5 separate regions of the Homo sapiens genome follow, and all the other regions are reported to be linked to region 2. Evidence: microRNA targets listed by miRTarBase, many of them from high-throughput screens and not tested one by one. Region 2 holds a microRNA gene; each other region holds the end of a gene's coding sequence.

Evidence for each region. The annotated mature microRNA hsa-miR-4724-5p reads AACUGAACCAGGAGUGAGCUUCG and lies in region 2 at 2,392-2,414, opposite strand. An mRNA with a match to its seed (bases 2 to 7 or 8) in the 3' UTR can be bound and repressed. Matches are read on the target gene's strand: a 7mer-m8 pairs with bases 2 to 8, a 7mer-A1 pairs with bases 2 to 7 and ends in A, and an 8mer does both.
Region 1: miRTarBase lists GPX8 as a target of hsa-miR-4724-5p. Seed matches in the 3' UTR shown: 7mer-A1 at 1,141-1,147 and 7mer-A1 at 1,745-1,751.
Region 3: the mRNA of TRIQK is a reported target of hsa-miR-4724-5p. Seed matches in the 3' UTR shown: 7mer-m8 at 3,174-3,180.
Region 4: the mRNA of MCMDC2 is a reported target of hsa-miR-4724-5p. Seed matches in the 3' UTR shown: 7mer-m8 at 2,439-2,445.
Region 5: miRTarBase lists GTF2E2 as a target of hsa-miR-4724-5p. Seed matches in the 3' UTR shown: 7mer-m8 at 814-820.

What each region holds. Positions count from the first base shown.
Region 1 is chr5:55,163,778-55,167,777 of GRCh38, forward strand. It overlaps GPX8 (glutathione peroxidase 8 (putative)), which reads left to right. Exons shown (of 3, transcript NM_001008397.4): 3 at 278-3,520. The coding sequence ends at 441. All of the region lies in intron 2 of CDC20B (cell division cycle 20B), which reads right to left. Among named protein-coding and RNA genes, the nearest start is that of MIR449A, 4.8 kb to the right of the region's middle.
Region 2 is chr17:31,532,248-31,537,306 of GRCh38, reverse strand. It overlaps MIR4724 (microRNA 4724), which reads right to left and starts at 2,424; the gene lies at 2,336-2,424. RAB11FIP4 (RAB11 family interacting protein 4) reads right to left here. Exons shown (of 15, transcript NM_032932.6): 15 at 1-5,059. RefSeq lists an enhancer at 1,497-1,796.
Region 3 is chr8:92,882,902-92,887,960 of GRCh38, forward strand. It overlaps TRIQK (triple QxxK/R motif containing), which reads right to left. Exons shown (of 5, transcript NM_001171797.2): 5 at 633-3,834. The coding sequence ends at 3,721. Among named protein-coding and RNA genes, the nearest start is that of TRIQK, 81 kb to the right of the region's middle.
Region 4 is chr8:66,918,426-66,922,425 of GRCh38, reverse strand. MCMDC2 (minichromosome maintenance domain containing 2) reads right to left here. Exons shown (of 15, transcript NM_173518.5): 15 at 378-3,423. The coding sequence ends at 3,257. It overlaps SNHG6 (small nucleolar RNA host gene 6), which reads left to right. Exons shown (of 4, transcript NR_152600.1): 3 at 41-102; 4 at 312-736. Among named protein-coding and RNA genes, the nearest start is that of SNORD87, 2.1 kb to the left of the region's middle.
Region 5 is chr8:30,575,619-30,579,618 of GRCh38, reverse strand. It overlaps GTF2E2 (general transcription factor IIE subunit 2), which reads left to right. Exons shown (of 8, transcript NM_002095.6): 8 at 582-1,301. The coding sequence ends at 698. Among named protein-coding and RNA genes, the nearest start is that of SMIM18, 61 kb to the left of the region's middle. RefSeq lists a silencer at 3,817-3,866.

The sequences.
Region 1 (4,000 bases), not on the chromosome of region 2:
GATTACAGACTGAGCCACGGCTCCCAGCCTACTTTGCTTCATTTCTTGATACTAAGATCACATACTAGATGAGTAGACTCATAGGTGAAGTCATCAAGTATATTGAAATCTGGTTACTCTAACCTTGAGTTTCACTTCGTTTGGGTGTTTTGTTTTTTATATTATGACAGTCCTAGAACTTGATACTAAAGTTATCATTTATGCAGATACTAATAGAAGTGAAAATCTTGACAAAGAATAAAATTATGCTCATGAAAATATGTTCTGGATATTTTAGATTCTTCAAAGAAGGAACCAAGGTGGAATTTTTGGAAGTATCTTGTCAACCCTGAGGGTCAAGTTGTGAAGTTCTGGAAGCCAGAGGAGCCCATTGAAGTCATCAGGCCTGACATAGCAGCTCTGGTTAGACAAGTGATCATAAAAAAGAAAGAGGATCTATGAGAATGCCATTGCGTTTCTAATAGAACAGAGAAATGTCTCCATGAGGGTTTGGTCTCATTTTAAACATTTTTTTTTTGGAGACAGTGTCTCACTCTGTCACCCAGGCTGGAGTGCAGTAGTGCGTTCTCAGCTCATTGCAACCTCTGCCTTTTTAAACATGCTATTAAATGTGGCAATGAAGGATTTTTTTTTAATGTTATCTTGCTATTAAGTGGTAATGAATGTTCCCAGGATGAGGATGTTACCCAAAGCAAAAATCAAGAGTAGCCAAAGAATCAACATGAAATATATTAACTACTTCCTCTGACCATACTAAAGAATTCAGAATACACAGTGACCAATGTGCCTCAATATCTTATTGTTCAACTTGACATTTTCTAGGACTGTACTTGATGAAAATGCCAACACACTAGACCACTCTTTGGATTCAAGAGCACTGTGTATGACTGAAATTTCTGGAATAACTGTAAATGGTTATGTTAATGGAATAAAACACAAATGTTGAAAAATGTAAAATATATATACATAGATTCAAATCCTTATATATGTATGCTTGTTTTGTGTACAGGATTTTGTTTTTTCTTTTTAAGTACAGGTTCCTAGTGTTTTACTATAACTGTCACTATGTATGTAACTGACATATATAAATAGTCATTTATAAATGACCGTATTATAACATTTGAAAAAGTCTTCATCATTTTCAGTATTTCTCTCTGCATTATTTTTTAGAAGCAACTCAAATTCTGTAATCATAATATTACCAAGTAAGTCAGTCTTTATTTTTGCGTGAAAATCCCAAGTGTAGAAAAAAGGACATGAGTATAAGATCATTTAACTTGATTCCTTATAGGCTGATTTGGGTTGCTAATGTATTCGTACTAGATTAGCCACTTGGGAGGAATTCAATGCTGCATCATTCTGATAGCTGAAATAGTAAAAGTCAACTCCAAACAGCCTAAATTCTAGTATAAAAAGGGGGTGATCATACAAGTCCTAAAGTGTAGATCAGCAGTCACTGAACCTCTTAGAGTCACAAGGCATTTCTTCTCCCAAAGTCATGACCTTTATATTTTGTTAGCCTTATAATTGACTAACAAAGCAACCTGCCAAGTTGGTGAAGGTTAATTATTGCCTCATGAAATATACATTCATCGCATAAAAGAATTAAATAGGAAGATGGCCAAAAATGTAAAAAAGTCGTATAAATTTGTCTAAGAAGAAAAAGACCCAATTTAAGTAGTCTGTGACTTGACTCCCAAATTCTGACCTGATGGATGAAAGTGAAGATGTTTCGTATGGCAAATTCAGTAATGCTACCTCAGTATATAGTTCTGTATACGTATTTGGACCAAAGTTATTAGATAAACCAAAAATATTTCATGAAGCATCTTCTGCTTCAGAGTCCATATCCAGCCACCCAGCTATGAATGTATTTAGAAAGATATTTGGTGGAGGTGGAATTTCTACCAGAGGTCAAGAGGATTTGTAGGGATAGCCTCAAGAATGCCAGATGAGTGTGTCAGAAAGCCTGCTCCTACCTCTCGCCAGCTGCGTGACTTTAGGCAAGTCACTTAAGTACCTTATTTCAGTTTCCTCACCTGTAAATTGAACAGGGGTTGAATGGAATAAAAAGCCCTTTGCAACTCTAAAAGTCAATTAACACACTTACTAAGGTGTTTTAAGTGACCAGGAAGGAAATCAGAACTAACCTGGATTGTTAGCGAAGAAAACAGAAGCCACCAACAAGCCTATCTGTCCTTTGCAATTTTGCTCCAAGAGCCTATTAGCAATTTGAATTCTGAGCCTCTAAGAAAACTTATGCTCAGGTGGCCCCTCCAAGTGTTGGTGCCAGAGCACTCTTGCCTTGTATCCTCACCTACGCCTTCCATGAACTCATAGCAGTGCTGTGGCACTGCAGGGGTGTTTTATGCATTCACGTTAGGAGCATGAGCAGAACTGCATATGCCAGCACCACATGGGCAGCAGAGACTCCCCACTGCCAGATGGATGATAATGGAGCTGCACTGGGAACAACCAGGACTGTCCCAGTCAACATGATACAGATGAACATCCTGCCTTAAGTCACTAGCTCTCTCCAAAGCCAGATAAAGTGGGTTTCTTCACTTACATCTCTCTAATCTTGGCTGCCTTATTCAACCTACAGACTCTATGTCAGTGCTGGATTTTCTCCCCTTGCCCTTTAGGTAAGCAGAGTAGGCAGGAGGAGATTTGAAAGCGTGTCATACATATTGCCTTGAAAGAAAGGACATTCAGGTGTCCCTTCGGGGTTCTGTAACAATTAGGCTATGTGTGCTGAGAGAGGGAGCGGAGTCATTTGCTGATGTGCTGCTACCTGTAACTCAAATGCCTCATAGGAATACCAGCGGACAAACACATAGAGGAAAAGTTGAATCTTTCCTATATTGGACAATCTTCCTTCAGTCTTGTTTCTGCATCAAAAAGTCTGGGACACAGAGTGCTACAGGATGCCTGGGCTAAGGACTGTAACAGAAAAATATCAACATCAGAGCCTGGCACAGTGGCTCACACCGGTAATCCCAGCACTTTGGGAGGCCGAGGCGGGTGGATCACTTCAGGTCAGGAGTTCGAGACCATCCTGGCCAACATGGTGAAACCCCCATCTCTACTAAAAATACAAAAATTAGCCGGGCACGGTGGCACATGCCTGTAATCCCAGCTACCTGGGAGGCTGAGTCAGAAGAATCACTTGAAAACAGGAGGCTGAGGTTGCAATGAGCCAAGATTGCACCACTGCACTCCAACCTGGGCAACAGAGCGAGACCCCATCTTAAAGACCCTGTCTCAAAAAAGAGAGAAAAAGAAAAAGAAAAATATCAGGCATCACATGAAAGAGTATTCAGCTGTCGTTCTTGTGAAAAAGGAAAAGGACAAAATCAAATGCATTTTAACTGTGGTAACTAATTCACTGACTTGAAGTTTGCTTTGTTTGTTTTCTTTGGTGCGTAGAGAAGAATACTTCATACTAACTCCTGATCATCTTACAGCAGACATAACAACAGAGTGTTAGAGACTGGAATAAATATGAATTTGGCTGAAATGTGCCCTGAAAGTTGTATTTCATTTTTTTAAATGTTTAACAATTACACTGTATCAATAGTATATATACGTGTACATATATATAATTCTTAATAACTGCAGTGTATCTAGCATATATATAATGGTGGCTGGTACATGTTTAATAGCAGACTCTGGAGGAGGAATCCTGACATACAGCATTTGCCAGCTCAATGTAAATGCTCATGCTCCCTCATGGTCAATTTCAATCTACCACTGGTTTAGTAACTAGGATGCAAAATTTCTAAAAATGTGATAATTGGTGATGGGCATGATGGCTCAGGCCTGTAATATCAGCACTTTAAGCAGCTGAGGTGGGAGGATCACTTGAGCCCAGGAGTTAGAGACCAGCCTGGGGCAACATGGCAAAACCCTGTCTCCACAAAAAAAATCAAAAAATTAGCTGGGTGTAGTGGCACATGCCTCAGGTCCCAGCTACATAGGAGGCTGAGGTGGAAGGATT
Region 2 (5,059 bases):
TGATCCTTGTGGACGAATGTGCCCGGGAGAGCTGGCCTCACCTGGGGGAGGCACGTTGAAAAAGTACACATTTACAGGGCTCGGGAAAGGCCAGGGAGATGAGACGATGTAGAAAAGGAGGCAGTGGGCAATGTGGAAAATCCTGTACAGTGGCGATGGGGAAGAAAAGGCACAAGGACAAAGACCCCAAACCATGCAGATGAAAACAGCCTGTGCAGCACAGCAAAGCGGATGGGCCCCAGCAGGAGGCAGGGTCACCCTGGGGACAACAGCACTTGGATCCTGCAGGAGACATGGCCTGGATGCCATCCCCAGCTGGTAGCTCCGGGGCAGACATCTCTACCTTACAGATGGGGAAAGGAGCAACCTACGAGGTCGGGGCAGGGAGGTCATATGGGAAACCTCGCCTGGTGAGCATGGTGACATTATACTTCCCCAGGGTCTACGCTTTTAGAAACAAATCTTTCTAGAAGGCAGCCTATTTTCTCTGGTGGGTAGCAGAGAATATGGCAGAAGGGCCTCAGAGTTGTCCTGCCATGCAGGTAGGGCAGGCTCCTGGTTCCAGCCTCTCCCGCTTCCTGCTGGCTGCCCCATTCATGTGTGCACCCAGGGCAGGAAGTGAGGACCTGGCAGGTCCCTAGGATCAGCGCTCAAAGTCATCCACTGACGGCATGGCCCTTCTAACTTGAGGCCCCTTGGCGCAGCAGACCTCAGTCTTCCTAGCCAGCAGCGTCACCCTAGAGGGGATTTCCTGGGTCCCAAAGGGAGGGCCAGAGTCTGGGAGAAAGGACTGTGGAGGATACCAGCACTGAGTCCTAAGTGGCCCCTTTCCTCAATCTAGAATCCACAGTAGCCCTTGAGAAAGAGTCGCTGTGGATCTGCTGGGCAACCAAAGTCATTTTCTTGGCATGGTGACCACGCAAAACTTTCCTGGTATGATCACATCGAAAGTTACTTTTTGTTTTTTTAAAAAAATAAAGACAAGAGTTTCACCATGTTGTCCAGGCTGGTCTCGAACTCCTGAGCTCAGGCAATCCACCTGCCTTGGCCTCCCAAAGTGCTGGGATTACAGGTGTGAGCCACCGTGCCCGGCCTAGAGTTAGTTTTTAAGTTTAAATTTGCTAATGCATTAAACCCCACCACACACACAGGACACAGAGGGCTTCATTTCTCCCAGTTTCACCTGGCCCTGCTGGCCCCTGGAGGCTTCTGCTAAGTCCCTCATTGGAACCAAGAACCCGCGCTTCTGTCCCCGCGCCCCCCCCCCCCAACTCCCCTGAACACCAGCACCAGTGGACTAGCACCTGGAGTGTCCGGTGTGTGAGTAGGATGCTGGTTTGGCTAACAGGGAACGAGCTGGGACTCCCTTTATCAACCCAGTCAGGAAACAGACCAGAAGCAAAACCCACAAAGACAGTATGTCCTCCTGCTCAGCTATGCAAATAGGTGGCAGCTGTTTCTGCGGCTGCTTTCAGGGGGACAGCCCCACCTGTCAGTTCCCTGCTGACTCTGTTCTACCTGCTCTTTGAGATGAGCCTGTAGCCAGTATATCCCAACACATGCCACCCACTGATTCCAGGGGCACCAGGCCAAGGTCCTGCCCACCCACTCTGGTCTGCTAACCTCCAGGCTGGTGAGAACAGCTGGATCCACCAGCTCCTGAAGGCATCTGGCCTCCCATCCTGCAGGCCAGGACCATTCAACAACAGGAAAAGGAACCCTCCCAGCAAGAGAGCTCACTGTCATTCAGCCACGGGCTTGACAAGCCCAACAGCCACTTTGACCAGTTTCCTCTACCTCTGGCCAACGACCTTGCAGGACAGGGCAGTCTCAACCTCGGACTGCATATCATCACCTGGGGAGGTCTTTACACATCTCGATGCCTGGACCACACCCCACACCAATTCAATCCGAACCTCTGGGGGTTCAGCCCAGACAGCAGAAGCTTACAAATCTCCCCAGGTGATTCCAATGCACAGCCAAAGCTGAGCCCACTGTTTTAGGCCCTCGTGCAGGTTCTTGAGCTTTTTTTTTTTTTTTTTTAACTTTTGGTAGAGACAAGGTATCACTATGTTGCCCAGGCTGGTTTAGGACTCCTGAGCTCAAGTGATCCGCCTGCCACTGCCTCCCAAGTGCTAGGATTACAGGCGTGAGCCACCATGCCTGGCCTGTTCATGTTTTAATAGGTCAGAAATAAAGTCATGAAAAGGAATTTCTCTGTGACAGTTCGCAAAGAATTCTACCAATTTAAAATAAAATAATCTAGGATAAACTCTGGCCAATTCAAAGCTAAAAGAAAAAAACATTTTTACTAGAAGTTTCTTAAAGCCTCTCAACGCACAGGGACTAGCTGAACCAGAAGGTACTTCATTTTCTAATAGATAATGTACACGAAGCTCACTCCTGGTTCAGTTCATTTTGCGTGGCTTCCAACTGAACGCAAGGGCAGCTCAGGGCCATGTAAAATCTGAGTCTACTACAGAAACCCTCGCCCCACCCCCAAAACACCTCTAAATTTCAGATAAGTTACTGCTAATCCCTACTCGGTAGGGTTGCCAGGTTTAGCAAAAACAATAAAAACAAACAAAAAACCCAAGTAGGACACGCAATTAAATTGGAATTACCTGAGCAGCTCTTTAAAAAATCCCATGCCTGGGCTACACCCACAACAATCAAACCAGAACGTCTGAGGATTCAGTCTAATCATCAGAATTTTTAAAATCTCCCCATTTCAAATATGTCCTGGCCAGGCATGGTGGCTCATGCCTGTAATCCCAGTGCTTTGGCAGGCTGAGGTGGGAGGATCACTTGAGGTCAGCAGCTCGAGTGAGGCAACACAGTGAGACCCTGTCTCTACAAAAAATAAGAAAAATTAGCTGGGCGTGGTGGTGCATGCCTGTAGTCCCAGCTACTCAGGCAGTTAAGGCGGGAGGATCGCTTGAGCCTGGGAGTTCAAGGTTGTGGTGAGCTATGATCATACCACTACACTCCAGCCTGGGCAACAGAGCAAGATCCTATCTCTAAAAATAACATCTGTCCCATGTATTAGATAGAACATATTTATTCTAAAATTATTTTCTATCTGAAATTCAAACTTAACTGGGCATCCTGTCTACTACCTCGCAGCCCCACTACTGAGGGGTAAGGGCAGAAACAAAGATCAAGCTCCTACCACCTAGGCTCTGGGACCTGCCACCAAGGGGTCTGGGATCTGCCAGGGGCTGTGGAGCTGGGACACCTGGGGCATCTGCCCCCTCAAGCTAGCTTTTGAGCCCAGAAGAATATTTTTACAAACATACACCATCTTTAAAAGCCAAGCAACAAGCCAGGTTTTACAAGAAATGTATTCTGGCTGAAGAAAGTAAGGTTGGACTTGAGGTGTGTGTGAGCTGGAATTCAGCCCCCCATTTAAAAGCCAGGCCTGCTCCAGAGGCCCCTCTGGCACTGCAGCAGGTCCCGGGGGCCTTTCAGACGCCGGCTCCCTCCGGAGCCTGTTCCCATGGCGCCCCTTAGAGGGAGGAGCCTGAAGCACGCCCCAGGCTGCCAGCTGCTTCCGCCCACCTTTCCCGTGGCAGAGATTCCTTCCCACGTTGTGACTCAGGCTGTGTAACCCAGGCCTCTGCAGCCTTCTCTGAAATTCCAATGCAGCCAAAGGGCAGATAACATTTTACAGATAAAATACTCAACCCTGGGGTAAGGCCCCCACGCACCAGTACTCCTTCTGACCTAACACCCAGGCCAAAGCTATGTCAGGATCTGTCTTGTTCCTTTCAGCCGTGGCCACTCCTTCCTATTGGCAAATTCTCAAGAGACCCTCTCCTCATGCCTTCTTCCACTGCCTCTTCGCAGAACCCTTGGGGGAGCCCAAGGAGACCCGCGTCCTAAGGGGCTGAGAAACTCCTAGAAGACCGACTGCCTAGCCTAGTCTTCCCAGTGTGGGTGGCTCCAAAGTCCTGGGTCAGACCAGTGCAACCCCATTATGTGCAGCATGAAACTAATCCCCAACAAAAGATTAAAAAGAAGCCACGAGATCCAACAAATGCAAAGGCTGATTGGAATGGAATTGAAGGTTGGTCCTGGCCACAGCCCTGCCTCTGTCAAGCAGGTGTCACACCCAAGTCCCCAGATCCCCTCTCCTCACCCTCACTGCCCTCTCTTTCTGCAACTCCCCCTCCACCGCCCTTCCCAACATGCCCAAACCTTCCTTCTCATACTATAAGATGTGCTGAAGAAAGCAAGAAACTGCAGGGGGAAGAATAAGACCACACACGTTTATATATATTTGGATTAAGAAAATGAATCACAAGCCATATAAAATTGAGATAAATTGGAAAACTCTAAGGTAAGTACCATGTCTATTCCCAGCTGCCTAGAACAAAGATCCATTAAAAATCCATGGTGTGAATTTCCACCATGGGTCAGAAGGATGGAAGACTAAGGTTTTCCTGCAACTTTCCCAACCGCCTCCCACCAGTGCAGCGAGTGCTCCCCTGGCTGAGAATCAAATACAGGTGTGTTTCTAAACGCTGGAACGAAGCAGTCTTGCTGCCACACGAGTGGAGCCCGGAGCTAGGATTCTGAAATCCAAACCCAGGCCTGCCATCACCAGGCTGCGTGGAGAATGAAGACAGGGAGCCAGGCAGACGGTTTCTCCGTGCATCCATCTTAAGATGCAGCCATGGGAAGGAAACTGACTGGGATGGGAGTTGTGTTCCTCCCCAAAACTCATTTCTTTGGTTGCCCGATGTCAACTCCTGCCTTAGACACCCATCCCAAACCCTCCTTCTCCTTCATTTTTATCCCTTCATGTTACAATGACGCAGTGAATGCTGCTTCATTGTCTTAAAACTGAAACAGAAACGGGGAGGTAGGTAGCATGGATGGGGGAGTGCACGAACTCTATAGGTACAGGATGAGGATGCCCCGCACTAGCTGCTATGAAACCTGAGTCCTCTGTTCACTCTGCACACACATCACAGAGGGCTGCTGGCCGGTGGCCAAGGCATTTGGTGAGGGCCCCATCTCATGGACCCTCCAGATGCCCCTTCATCCTCTCTGA
Region 3 (5,059 bases), not on the chromosome of region 2:
TTTTTTTAACCGTGGGTTGCACTGATTCTAAATATGGTTTAAGTGGAACAAAATCTAGCAAACAGCATTCTATCCAGGCTGCATTGGAGCAATTCTAATAAAAGAAGGCAGTGCTGCTAAGGGAGAAGTGGTAGGAATCTCCCAGAGAAGCCCCAGGTAAGTGTAAAGAAGTCTAATTGTTGGTGAGGAGAGAATACAAAATTATCTTAGGTAGTCTCTGGCTCAACAACTTTATGTTATGGATGAAATACATTAAAATAGGCTGGGTTTAATTTCTAGAAGTATATTTCTGACGCTGATGTATAGCACAATTTGCTCTACTGAATTATCATTGAGTATATAATTTTAGAACCTGGAAAATACAGTGTTTTAGTAGTCACATAAACATTATAATGAAAATTGAGTTCTATTTTCATTTGGAGTGAAAATGCATGCTAAGTTGAATTCAAACATTGAGTATAGTTTTTAATAAATTCTAAGATAAAAATAGCATATTTGATTCCCTAGAAAAGAGCAATGTTTCTATTTTATAGCGACCTTAATGCTAGTTGTCTTGATTTAAAGAGAATCAGGATGAAACACGTATATATCTCAGTACAACCAAGGACCATAAATGGTAAATGCCGAGTTGATTGATATTGTGATTTTTAAGTTTTATTGATTAAATTCAAACTTTTTTATCATTTACACAAAGAAACTGTGACAGACTCTGAGAGGACTAAAAGGCATCAACTTAAATTTTAACATGCATTTATTAAATTTATATGCAGATGACTACACTACTGCAATTACAGAAATGAGTAAGAACATACTCTCAAGATCTTACAGTCATTGGTTGGGGTGAAAGTATTTCTTCTGTCTTCATGAAAAATTAAAAAGATAGAAAATCTTGAAGTATTTTGCTACCTTAAAACAACTACCCACCCTACATTTGTACTAAAATAGGCTTTTGCTTGTTTTAAAAGCAATTCTAGATGAGGTTATATTTTTACAATACTGTATCTCATCTCAAATAAATTTATACATTCTTTACCCTGTCTAAACTTGCATGCAAAATAAGAACCAGCAAGCCTTCAAACTTCAATCACAGTATTCCATAGGCTATATTTTAAGTCTATTGCATTAGTTGAAATTTATTTTGCAGAGTATGTTAACAAACATATTCTAACACTTAAAAAATCATTACAATTTTTTCTGTTTTTGTCTTCTAAATTACTCTGAGCAGTGAATTACTGGAGGGAAGATACCCATGTCTAAAATTTGTGTCTGGTGCCAGTCTCAGATTTCTGCCAAACACCAGTAGGTATTCAAAAGTGTGGTCCCTTTAAAACAGCAGGCCGGATATCACCTTTCTGTCTTCAAAGATTCAAACCAGACTCCCAATCTGGGATTTCTCTACAGAGGGTTGGCTGCTTCCCAGTTAATGTGAGTTTTGCAAAGTTTGCATTTCATGAAAACAGTGTTGTGTAAACATATATTGTGTCACTTTACCTACTATTTACTAAAATCAGAGAGTTTAGCCTTTGAAATTTATGGTTCTCTGGAGCTATCATAAATCAATCAGTCATACGAATGGACTAGCTGTAGACTCAGGATATCAATAAAACTAGGCAGTGAAATTTGCCTATAATTATACTATATTTAGATTAATAGTTATCAAAAACATTTTTCCCCAAAAAATACCTCAAGGGTAAAACAGAATGGTAAAGTTTTTTTCAGGATAATGAATTTTCAAACATTTCCAAGACCATAACCAGCCATTTTAAGTACTGTAAACTCTGTTATATTTCATTTGGATAAGTATCTAATAAGCAATTATTACATATCCTCTCATTTAAATTACCACTGAAAACTAGAAATAATCTTTATTTAATACGACTGTTTTAACACCATATGGAACGGGAAATAACTAAATGAAAATTGTTCACGTAAATGTGATGGGAGTGGGGGGGTGGGGAGCAGTATTTCTTGACATGTGGCATGTCACTCAGGAAAGTAAAAGGCCCATCATATCCAAAATGCCAGCTTGGATATTCCCTTGCCACCCACTTGACGAACAGACATACCACATGGCATTAAATGCTGCAACCTTTCCTAAAAATGCCACTTGGATTGGTCCGCTGTGGTGAGTATATAAGAACTCTTGGTCTGTCTCTTGAGTCTGTGAGTTCAAAGGGAAGAATCTAGTAAATAACACCGGCTAAATTTTGCCCTCAGATGTTTGGCATAAATGATTTGTGAGGATATTGGAACCTTTGGCTGTTTTCACACCAATGAAATAAATTATGCTACTTGAAAAAAATTCTACAGAACATAATGCTACACAGTCACAGTCGACTTTTTGCAAAAGTACCAGAGAATATCTTTTAGAAACAGTGCTTATAAAGCCCCATATACTCCTTAGATATTTCCCAAGGATTTCTTCTCTTGGCTAGCAGGAAAACAATCTTAATATTTTATTTATTCTTCATAAATACAATGTATATAATATAAAACACTTTGTGCACATGTTTCCAACAATTTCATTTTCTATGCATCTTTACATAAGGTAGTAGCTAATAACTCTTTCTGTGGACACGTATTTTCCAGTTTTCTAAGGTTTATGTGTTCAAGCATTGTAAAAACATATTTAAAAATTGAATTACCAGTAAAAATATTGAATGTACAGGTCATTATGCTCCCACAAATACAAAATACATTGAAAAATTATATCAACAGATAATTACATATGAAATATGAGGCATATATTTTCTTCTATTATTTATTTTCTCCCTAAAGAGTTCTAATTGATTAAATCTCAAGAGACAAAATGTAATTTTATAAAACAACTGTATTGTTCAGATTTAGGAGACAACCTAAGAAGATGATTCTGAGTAGGTAGGATTTTTGCTATTACTGTTATGTGAAAAAGACTGCTCAATTAAATGACAGATTGTTACATATCTCCCTAACAAGAGGGGCGAACTGATACTACAAGCAGCCAGAACAACATAATTAGAATAGAATTCCAAGGTTATATTAATAGAGTAATAAGTTAATTAAAACCAAGATCAACTGAGCTTCTATTTACACCAGTTCAGACAGCCCAAGAGGAAAAGAACTCTATTTTAGAGACATATGTGACTCTTTGAGCTTCTGTCATCCAGGTGCCATTTCTGATGCAGCACATGTGCACTGAACAGTTGGCAAAGAAGGAAAAAGATTATGGTAGATGTATGTGCAGATAGTCTCTCTAATGATGTAAAATACGTCCAGAAAGAAAGCAGGGCTTTGTTGTAAAATAAAAAATTTCCCATGACTTTTTGTTCTTTCTGAATGTGATTTGAGCATGTTTCTGTAAATAAGAATATATACTAACTTATGATGTATATAGAACAAAAATAGACTTACTCATCAGGAAGTGATGGAATTATACACATAAATTGGCAATGACATTTGAAAAATTTAGGATCTGGTTCCCATTTCATCTAAATGTACCATGTATAGGGTGGCTGTCAAAGCAGAAAGATATATAAAAGTATCCAGTAGCACATACTATACTGCATTGCTAGGTAAGGTTCTTTTCCTGACATCCTATGCAACTATCAAAAATCATATGTCTGCAAACTGAAAATATTAGCAGAAAGAATTAAAGATGTTACAGTTTCAGTATTGAAAGTTTTGGTCCCAAAAGGTGCTTTCGTAAAGTTATTTCTCTTTCATGCATTGATTGTTGCTTAGCTAATCTTCATCTTGGTCCAGATCAGGGTCAACATCCGTGGTGAGTCTGAGATAAAAGAAAGCATAGAAAGCCAGTAGTAGTGCCAATATAGCTGCAAGTACAAGGCCAACTTCCTGGGAAGAAAAAAAAAGTAGACTTGAAATTGATGAAAAAAGATTGGTTAACATTATTAGTTTCACCAGATAAAATAACCATATTGTTCCACAGTCTAGAATGAATAATTTGAACCTAATAATCATATCCTTTTTGTTTACCATTTTTTGCCGTTAAGAAACTGTTTTGTACTGGCAAGTCCCAATGAAATGGCAAATACACCAGTGGGTGAGTCATTAGTATTATTATTTCTAGCTAATTTGTTTTTTCCTTATAGTAATATTAAAAATGTATCATTTTAATATATTTTTATAGTTTGGATATCAGGATGTTCGATACAAGCAATGCAGTTTGTATCTACACAGTTGATCTGTTTTCTATTTGAGTGTGTTTAACTTTATTTGTGGCTTCAATACATTCAGTATTAATGATAGCATTTGGGCACAGTTTTTTTTTTAATTATCATTCCTTTTCATTGTAAAGAAACAGTTGTAACTGGTCTCTAGATTATATATAGATGTATACATACTCATTAAATGTGACTTTGTTGAAACTCTAATTTTTAAATCCTAAAGTCTATAGTTTACACTGCAGAGGAACAAAACAAAGTACTCTTCACTCATGAAGCATAATACAATACATTTATCACAGTTTTGAAGGATGGGCCCAGATTTTTCATTTGTGATGTGATGTGGATTAAATTAATCAACTATATTGTAATAATGATAAAAAATTTACTCATATATTATGATAAAAATCATATTATCTCTCAAAAAGTATGTATATGTATATATCTCTGTGTGTATACCTTCCAGAACTTTCTTAACATTAACATATCATTTGACTAAATCAAAAAAGAAAAAAAAAGCAAATAGAATGCCAGTTCAGTATCCTAAAGGGCTTACATACTATATTCTAATTTCTACTGTATATTATGCCCTTTACCTAGCACTGCTTTACAGAGAAGCAATGCATTAGCATTTACATGAATATAGTTTACATTTCACAAGAAGGTAAGTCAGTAATAATAAACTTTAAAAACATTAAAATGAATTTGGCTTATAATCAACATGGAATTTTTACATGAATGTTGAATTTATAAATAGATCTTTTATACAGATTTTTAGCTTCATAATTACATTTATTTAGATGTCCAAACTATGAAAATAAATATTAATAAAAACCAAGAGGTTGAAAAACTCAAGTGTCAAAGATCTTTGTAAGGTTTCATTTTTTAAATCTAAT
Region 4 (4,000 bases), not on the chromosome of region 2:
ATTTAATTAAGGGTGAATATTCTTTGTTTTTAGCATATAGGTTGCTGTAGATGAATGTTCTTAGCTGTCATGTTTAAAAATACTTCTGCTTCGTTACCTCAAGTAAGTGATTTGTCAAGCAACTATGTCTGCTGACAGTTCAGAAAGTATCTGATAAACTTAAGGGTGGGGGCAGATTCTTGTTGAAGTTGCTTTTGCATGTGTGGTATTCTCAACATTAGTTTTTTGAGGGGCACTTGTGAATATTGAGGTTATATGAGAACTTTGAGTATGGAATGATTTTCACTGTGGTTTCTGACTTTGTTTTGGAGGTGTGGCATGCAGCATTTTGGAAGGAAAATTGAAGACGTGTTCAAGAAAACATGAACAGAAGCAAATGATGAAAATGAGCATTTTACTTGATGTTGATAACATCACAATAAATTATGGAGAAAAATACATATTTGGCTAACTTTTAATTGCTGAACAATAAAGTGTTTTCTTTTAAATCAACTCTAAATAGCTCCATTCTCATAGTCACTAGTCAGACCTGTTTTGAACATATTCGAAAGATTATAATCTTGTCAATAATTAGCTTATTTATGGGTGGTGATTCTCATTGAGGCTGACAGCTGGGGAGACATTGCTTGTACCTCTAGGTTCCCTGTCTGGCTTCCCCTTCAGAGCCTGCTGTTGTACCAGGTGGTTGAATCTTAAAACTCTTTAATACCAAATAGCAATCAAATTCCCCCTTACAGATAAAGGTTTCACCTTTTTTATTCAGTTTGCTTTCATCTTTGTGAACAAAAAAGTCATCCTAATACTAGTACATGTAATAACTAAGCAATATGCTATGTTAAGAGAAATGACTGAGCAGACCAGTCTGTCTAGGACTAAATTGGCAAGAATTCTAAAGCTGAATTTATATCTGGGTGAAGGTTTAGAGCTAAATCTTTTCTCCTGTTGAGTACTAGCTTATAAATTCCTTTTACCAAGGTTATAATTTTTATATGATAAATGGTATAAAACCTGTATAGCAACATCTTAGTCACTTCCCTCAGTATAGATTTGGGGGGTATAAGTGCAGTTCTGTTGCATAGGTATATGAAGTAGTTTGGAGTCTGAGCTTTTTGTGCAGCCATTACCTGAATGGTGTACATTGCACCCATTAATTTTTCGTCCTGCACCCCACCCCCTTCTAATTCTCCAATAACCTTTAAAATACCGTTGGCATATTTAATATTAATGAATTACCTCCCATAATTGTTTCTGAATGTACACTTCTACTCTTTAATGAGAAACTTAAACATTTTAATTTTTTTGTGGTGAAGTAACCATCTTTGAGACTGAGGTTGGGTTTTTTGAGCTGGGGAGATTAAGGTGGCAGTGAGCTATGATTGCATCAGTACACTACAGCTTGGGTGACAGCTACATATAAATATGTATATATAAATATAGATAAGTAAATAAAAGCCATCTTTGTGCCATGCATGGTGGCTCACTCCTGTAATCCCAACACTGGGAAGCTGAGGTACTGAGATGGGAGGATGACTTGAGACCAGCCTGGGAAACATGGCAAAATTCCATCTCTACAAAAAATGCAGAAGTTATCCCAGGGTGGTAGCATGTCCCTGTAGTCCCAGCTACTCGGAGGCCTAAGGTGGGAGAATTACTTGCAAGGTCAAGGCTGCAGGGAGCTGAGGTGGCGCCACAACCCTCCAAACGGTGACAGCCCCTGTCTCCAAAAAAAAAAGTTTTTAAACTTTCCAATTGTAAAAGGATCCTAGTTTTATAAAATAGGAATGTGTTTTGCCTTCCCCCCATAGAGAGCCAGACATGTTTGAAATGTAGTATTTGAGAAGCACAAAATAAACGTCTTAACATTATAGAACTGTAATATGTAAGTATTTTGTTGAAAACTACAGTCGCCAGTCGTGTTGGCTCATACCTGTTGTCTTAGCACTTTGGGAGACTGAGGCAGGCAGATCACCTGAGGTCGGGAGTTCAAGACCAGCCTGGCCAACATGGTGAAACCCTGTCTCTACTAAAAATACAAAAATTAGCCAGTCATGGTGGAGTGCACCTGTAATCCCAGCAGGAGAATCACTTGAACCCGGGAGGTGGAGGTTGCAGTGCCAAGATAACACCACTGCACTCCAGCCTGCATGACAGAGCGAGACCCCATCTCAAAAAAACAAAAAACAAAAACACTACCTTTGGCTTCTGAAAACTAATACTGTTTACTCCCTGCTACTAGTAGGTATTCAGTAATAGTGAACAACTTCCTCCGGGTCCTGTGGAGAGTGGGAGAGGTCCAGCTGTACAGTTAAGCATCTCTGTTAAGGGACCAGTTTTGAAAGAATTGATGCATGGTAACATCTTGGTTAATAAAGTGGCAATTTGGTAATGACATTTTGCTTTTCTGTGAATAGAACTGATCTTTTATTAAAGTTATGGAAACTGAACTAAAAAGGATTTATAAATTTTACAAGATGGATTTGTTTTCTCATGGTGCCCCTATCTTTTCAGAGCAGATATCTTCCCTCCAAAAATGAGGACTAGATTTGCAAGTTGGTTTCTTTGCCTTTTGGAGCCTTTCTTGTAACCAGTTAGGGTTAGAGAGCCAATTTATAAGTTATTGGCTCCTTGTTTCCGTGTAAAGTATTTTTTTCATTTAACCTAGCGTATACGTATGGAAAACTTCCAAGGCTTTTCCCGATTCCATATTTAGGGCTTCTAAAACAGTAGTATGTAATGGACAGGCCAGTAATAAAGTATGAAAAGGCCTTACATTTGAAGCTTCGGGTTATATAAAGTATTTACTCATCAGTTTAGCAAGTTCACAAGTGGAAGAAAAATGTTTTAGAGTAATTTGTAGGTAAAGAGTTATTGCCATCTTGTGACAGTAGAGTGAACTACATAAAGGTTGCCATTTTACACACTGCTCAAATTGCAACATTTACATTTTTATCTGTTCACCACTGGTATTCTGGGCTAACCAGGTTTTTCTTTATAGTATTCTCCTTGACAACTTTATCACTTTAAATTGTCCACATTGTTCTAAGTTTTAAAATTCTGTTGGTTTTAGAGGTTTGGATTAGTATTTATCCCATTAGCAATTAGTTTTGAGGGGACTATATTTTATATTTTTAAAAACAGTATTGTAATATATTCCTGTACAGAGTATTATCAAAGCATTACTTCAAAGTCACTCTCAAAATAGTCACACTTTTTCTCCACTGCTTAAGTAGGAATGAACAAAAATTCCTCAAATTGCTTATTCATCACTAGAGAAAATAGTTGTCCCAGGTCCATATGTGGCAATAAATTGTTCCAGCTGTTGTTGGCACTGAGTCAGATAGAGATCCCTTTGCTCTAAGTATTCTTCATTATACAGTTCAAATGGAAATACTGCATTCGGAGCAACACAAAATACAGTGGCCCCTAAATGAAGAAGATAATAGAGTGTAAATGACAAATACTCCTTAAAATGACAAGTATGAAATCACATTTTCAACCAAAATATTTTAATGGAATCTTAAAAATTAAGTCTGAGCCCATGTGGTTCTGTGAAAAATAAAAGTCAAAAAATTAAGTTCTGACCTATTCAGTAGAGTATTTCAATAATCATTATTGAAATCTGACTCTTGTTTTCTGAAACCCAGAAAGCAGGTTCAGTAAGTGCACACGCATTGGTACCAGGGCCAATGGAAGAAGTATGTTGATGTTTATATTTTAAAGTTTGGAACTAGAAACTTGCCTTCTACTGAAATAGTCATTATAGTTTTGAAGCTGATGAGTGATGTGAGGAGGTGACAGGAGTAGGGAGAAAAGGTACTGGAAGGTAAGAAATACTAATCTTTATTTGATAACGGCTAAGTGGACGATCAAAGATAAAGACATTGTAGTACATTTCTCAGTTGTTAAAACCATTCACATAAAGGCAGACAACATAAATCTATGGAAGGGTTTCAAGACCATTCTAGGGGAAAGGACAGATTCACTTTGGATTTGGCCATGA
Region 5 (4,000 bases), not on the chromosome of region 2:
GGGTGGGCATGTGTGTTTGGTGAATTTTTAGGACTCACCTAAAGGGAAGCTTTATTGTCAATCTCTTTCCACAAATGAGTGTAATTGCAGCCCTTCATGATTTCCTATTATTGTCTCATTTGTTAATTTTTTTCATCATGTGATGCTAATATTTCAAGTATATAGAAAAGAATAGAGAATATTACAGACCTTCATGTGCTCCTCCTTTCTCAGGATTTTGCCATATTTTCTTCAGATCTTTTTAAAATCGGTAATGGTGGATACGTTTTTAAACCTGATGACAGAGACAGAGCTGAAGGGCTTCATCGTCCCTTTTGTTTGACTTAGTGCCTAGAACCATTTTGGCAGGTTTTTGTGCCTGCTCCTTCATTCCCGATGGCATCTGCATCTCAGGGGAACAAAGGCCCGGGGTCTGGTCAGGGCGTGTGCTGTGCCCCATGTGTGCTGCTGGGTGGCAGAGCAGGAGAAGGGTCCGAACCTGGCATCCTCAGCCACTGGCATCTGGGCATGCTCAGAACATCCTGGCCACACCACCCCTCAGAGCAGCTGTTGTTTCTAATTGTTTTTACCTTTTCCTTTAGGCCCCTATTCAGAGAAGGAAAAAGCCTGCTTCACAGAAAAAGCGACGCTTTAAGACTCATAACGAACACTTGGCTGGAGTGCTGAAGGATTACTCTGACATTACTTCCAGCAAATAGGGAACAGTTTTGCCCTGGAACAGAGTTACAGATACACAATCAAGAGTGTTCTTGCTGATGCTCGGGGTCTGAAGACTGTCTTCCTATCTGCTTCTTGCGGCTGAGGAGAGGAGCAGTTCAGTTTACAAAACAAGTGCAAATTACCAAACTCAAAGCTTATTTGAGTAGAATGGGCTCATGGGCAATGTGATGTTCCCTGTTAACCTTCTGTTACTCCCTGGGAGAAAGGCGCTGAGCGTGGCATGCAGGTGTCTTTGCTGTGTTTTTCTCCACTTCTAAATGGTTCCTGGTTCCTTTCTTCCTCGTTTGTTACTTTAGAGCAAGTTTGCCCATAGTCTTGAATGCAATATTTGTTTATTCCAAAAGAACATATTTATAATAAAATCACTGTAGAAGGATTTTTAAGATGTTAGTGAATTCTGTTTCTTTTCATTCTCGGAAATGGCAGGAAGCAGCTCCAGTCTCTGATTTCCATGGGTCACGTGCTGGGGATGTGATGAAGCCTGCAGTCTGCACTGTGTTGCTGAGCACATGGATTTCACCACTGGAACACAGGTGTGCTGCTTGTTAGCAAGCAGAGCAATAAAGATGTGCTGGATGTCATTGTTAATGTTTTCTTTTAAAAAGAAGCGTCAGTGTCAGCCGGGCAAGCTGGCTCACGCCTGTAATCCCAGCACTTTGGGAGGCTGAGGCAGGTGGATCACGAGGTTAAAAGATCGAGACCATCCCGGCCAACATGGTGAAACCCTGTCTCTACTAAAAATATAAAAATTAGCTGGGCGTTGGGGCATGTGCCTGTACTCCTAGCTACTTGGGAGGCTGAGGCAGGAGAATCACTTGAACCCGGGAGGCGGAGGTTGCAGTGAGCTGAGATCGTGCCACTGCACTCCAGCCTGGTGACAGAACGAGACTCCGTCTTAAAAAAAAAAAAAAAGTATCAGTGTCCAGCTTCTTGGGTTTGGTAAATTCCAGGATGGCAAGCCTTTGTAGTGTCTCCTCGTCAACCTGAACGTCAGCTATACCATGCCTCCACCCTCATGTGGCCTGACCGGAGATGGTTCTGGTGGAGATGCCCTCTGTCACCGGCCCAGCTCATGAGAGCCATTACCAAATATGTGAGTGTTCTTTAGAGTGAGGGTGACTCACGGGAAATTCACATGGTTCTGCTTTCTACGGCAAAGTTTGCATTTTCCTCACCTGCACTGTTTATGTTCTGCTGTGGTCCTTTGTGCTGGTGGTCATGGTCCTCCCGTCACAGCATGGGATAGTAGTGGATTAGGAAACGAGGTGTTGGTTCTCAGAAAAGGCATGATGGAAACCCAGAGCAGGAAGTGCTTTGTGCAGACGACAAAGAACCTTTTTTTGCTTTTTCAGTTGTTTTCTCTTTTCTACTTACCTCTCATCCCTTTACAGTGTTATCTGTTTGCTTTACCTCTTTCTTACCTCCAAGCCCCAAAACATGGCAGGAGAGGATGTAACTGAGGTTCCCACGATAATTTAGAACACAGGAAATACAGCCTGTCTTGCTTTGTATAAGGTTTTTTTCTGGTAAGGAAGAGCTTTAATATCTTATGGCATGAAACTAGCTTTCCTGTAAAAAATCTAGAGTTAGCTTATCTCCAGGTAGGTACCTACTTTTGTGATCTCCACACTCCATCTTATTTTATGGGCCAGGTCTGGAAGTACAGTTTGGACATCTCATCTGCTTTGCAGGGAGATGGGCATCAGGGCCTCCGTCGTGGGCTCTGTGATCAGGTTCTCCATCTCTGTGATAAGGCGCTTACTGCCAGTTGTGTTATTGGTTGTGACTTCTAGCAATGCCTGTGCTCAGCAGTACTTCGTGGGCTGGCCTGATAATTGATTTCAGTTATTTTGTCTAAAATTCATTTCAGAAATGAAGATCTAGCAAAATGAAGTGACTCACTAAATTGCTGTACTCAACAAAATTCCGTAGCTTTATCTCATTCACTTGCAGTTTCTTTTGTTAAGCCTCGACCCACTCAGTCTACTACATGTAAGAGCAAATCCTCCATATACCCCATCTCAAGGTACTGGGGTTGCATCATCGGGTGACATGTTGAGGATACAGTGTTTGTGGGAACACTGATGGAAGGTTACTTGTGTTGGACGGTCATATTACAGGCACACCTCATTTTATTGTACTTGCTTTATGTGTTTTCACAGATACAGTGGAGTTTCTTTTCCATATTGAAGGTTTGTGGGAACCCTGCTTCAAGCAGATCTGTTGGTGCCGTTTTTCCAACAGCATGTGCTCACTTTTTGGCAATAATATATTTTAAATTAAAGTATATAATTGGATTCTTTAAGACATAATGCTATTGCTCACTTTCTACTATCATGTAGCATAAACATTTTAATATGCACTGGGAAACCAAAACATTTGTGTGACCCACTTTACTGTGATATTTGCTTTATTGCGATGGCCTGGAACCAAGTCTGCAGCATCTCCGAGGGATGCTATACAGAGAAGCTGTCTCTTCGCAGTTCTTCTGGGTGTCTGAAAACATATCCACCAGAAACACCAAGTTGAAGTCATGTTCTCGCCTCTGCCCGTTTCTGGTGGCTCTGCTGGCCATTTAGAAGCACGTGGGAATGGCACGGCTCGGTGAGTTAAGAGGGTATGACAGTCGGGAGTGCATTTGATCTATAATTCATCACCATGATGTGAGGCTTTTAGGGGATAGCTAAGGGAAATGTAGTCAAGCCTGGACAGAGTGTAAAAACCGAACATTTGGCTGCTGCTGTCACAGCCTGTAAATGTGGCCAGATGATGGTGGGACCCAGGGGACAGAGTGGCACTTGACACCTGTTGAGCAGAGGCTTAGTGGAAAGGCAGCGCAGGACATCCCGTTCCTTCCAGCCCCAGCGTTCAAGGGACTGCGAGTGGACAGCCCTGTCTTTATCTGTGAGCCGTTTGAAATCTGTAGCAGTAGAATGGGATTGTCAGTGTGGACGGTTTTGTGGGATGAGGGCATTTGGTTTATCAGTTCCCTGATTCTTAGTTAATAGTGATTTTCTGAGGCATAGAGGATGAGACTCAGTGTCTCTTCCCTGTAGCCACGGGTTTTACTTTCAGATGACTCATTTGTGGGGAGGATTTGGGGTTTTCTAAGGTTTGGTTGACTGTTGACAAGCTCAGCCTGGTGCCGCGCCTTCTGCAGCGAGGCGGAGCAGCCCTCCTGGACCTTCCTGCAGGTTCGAGGTCTCTCAGGGTGGTTTTTGTGGGCTTGTCCTGAGAGATGAGAAGGTGTTCTGTGGGAGTTGTGGTGGGATGGTCCAAG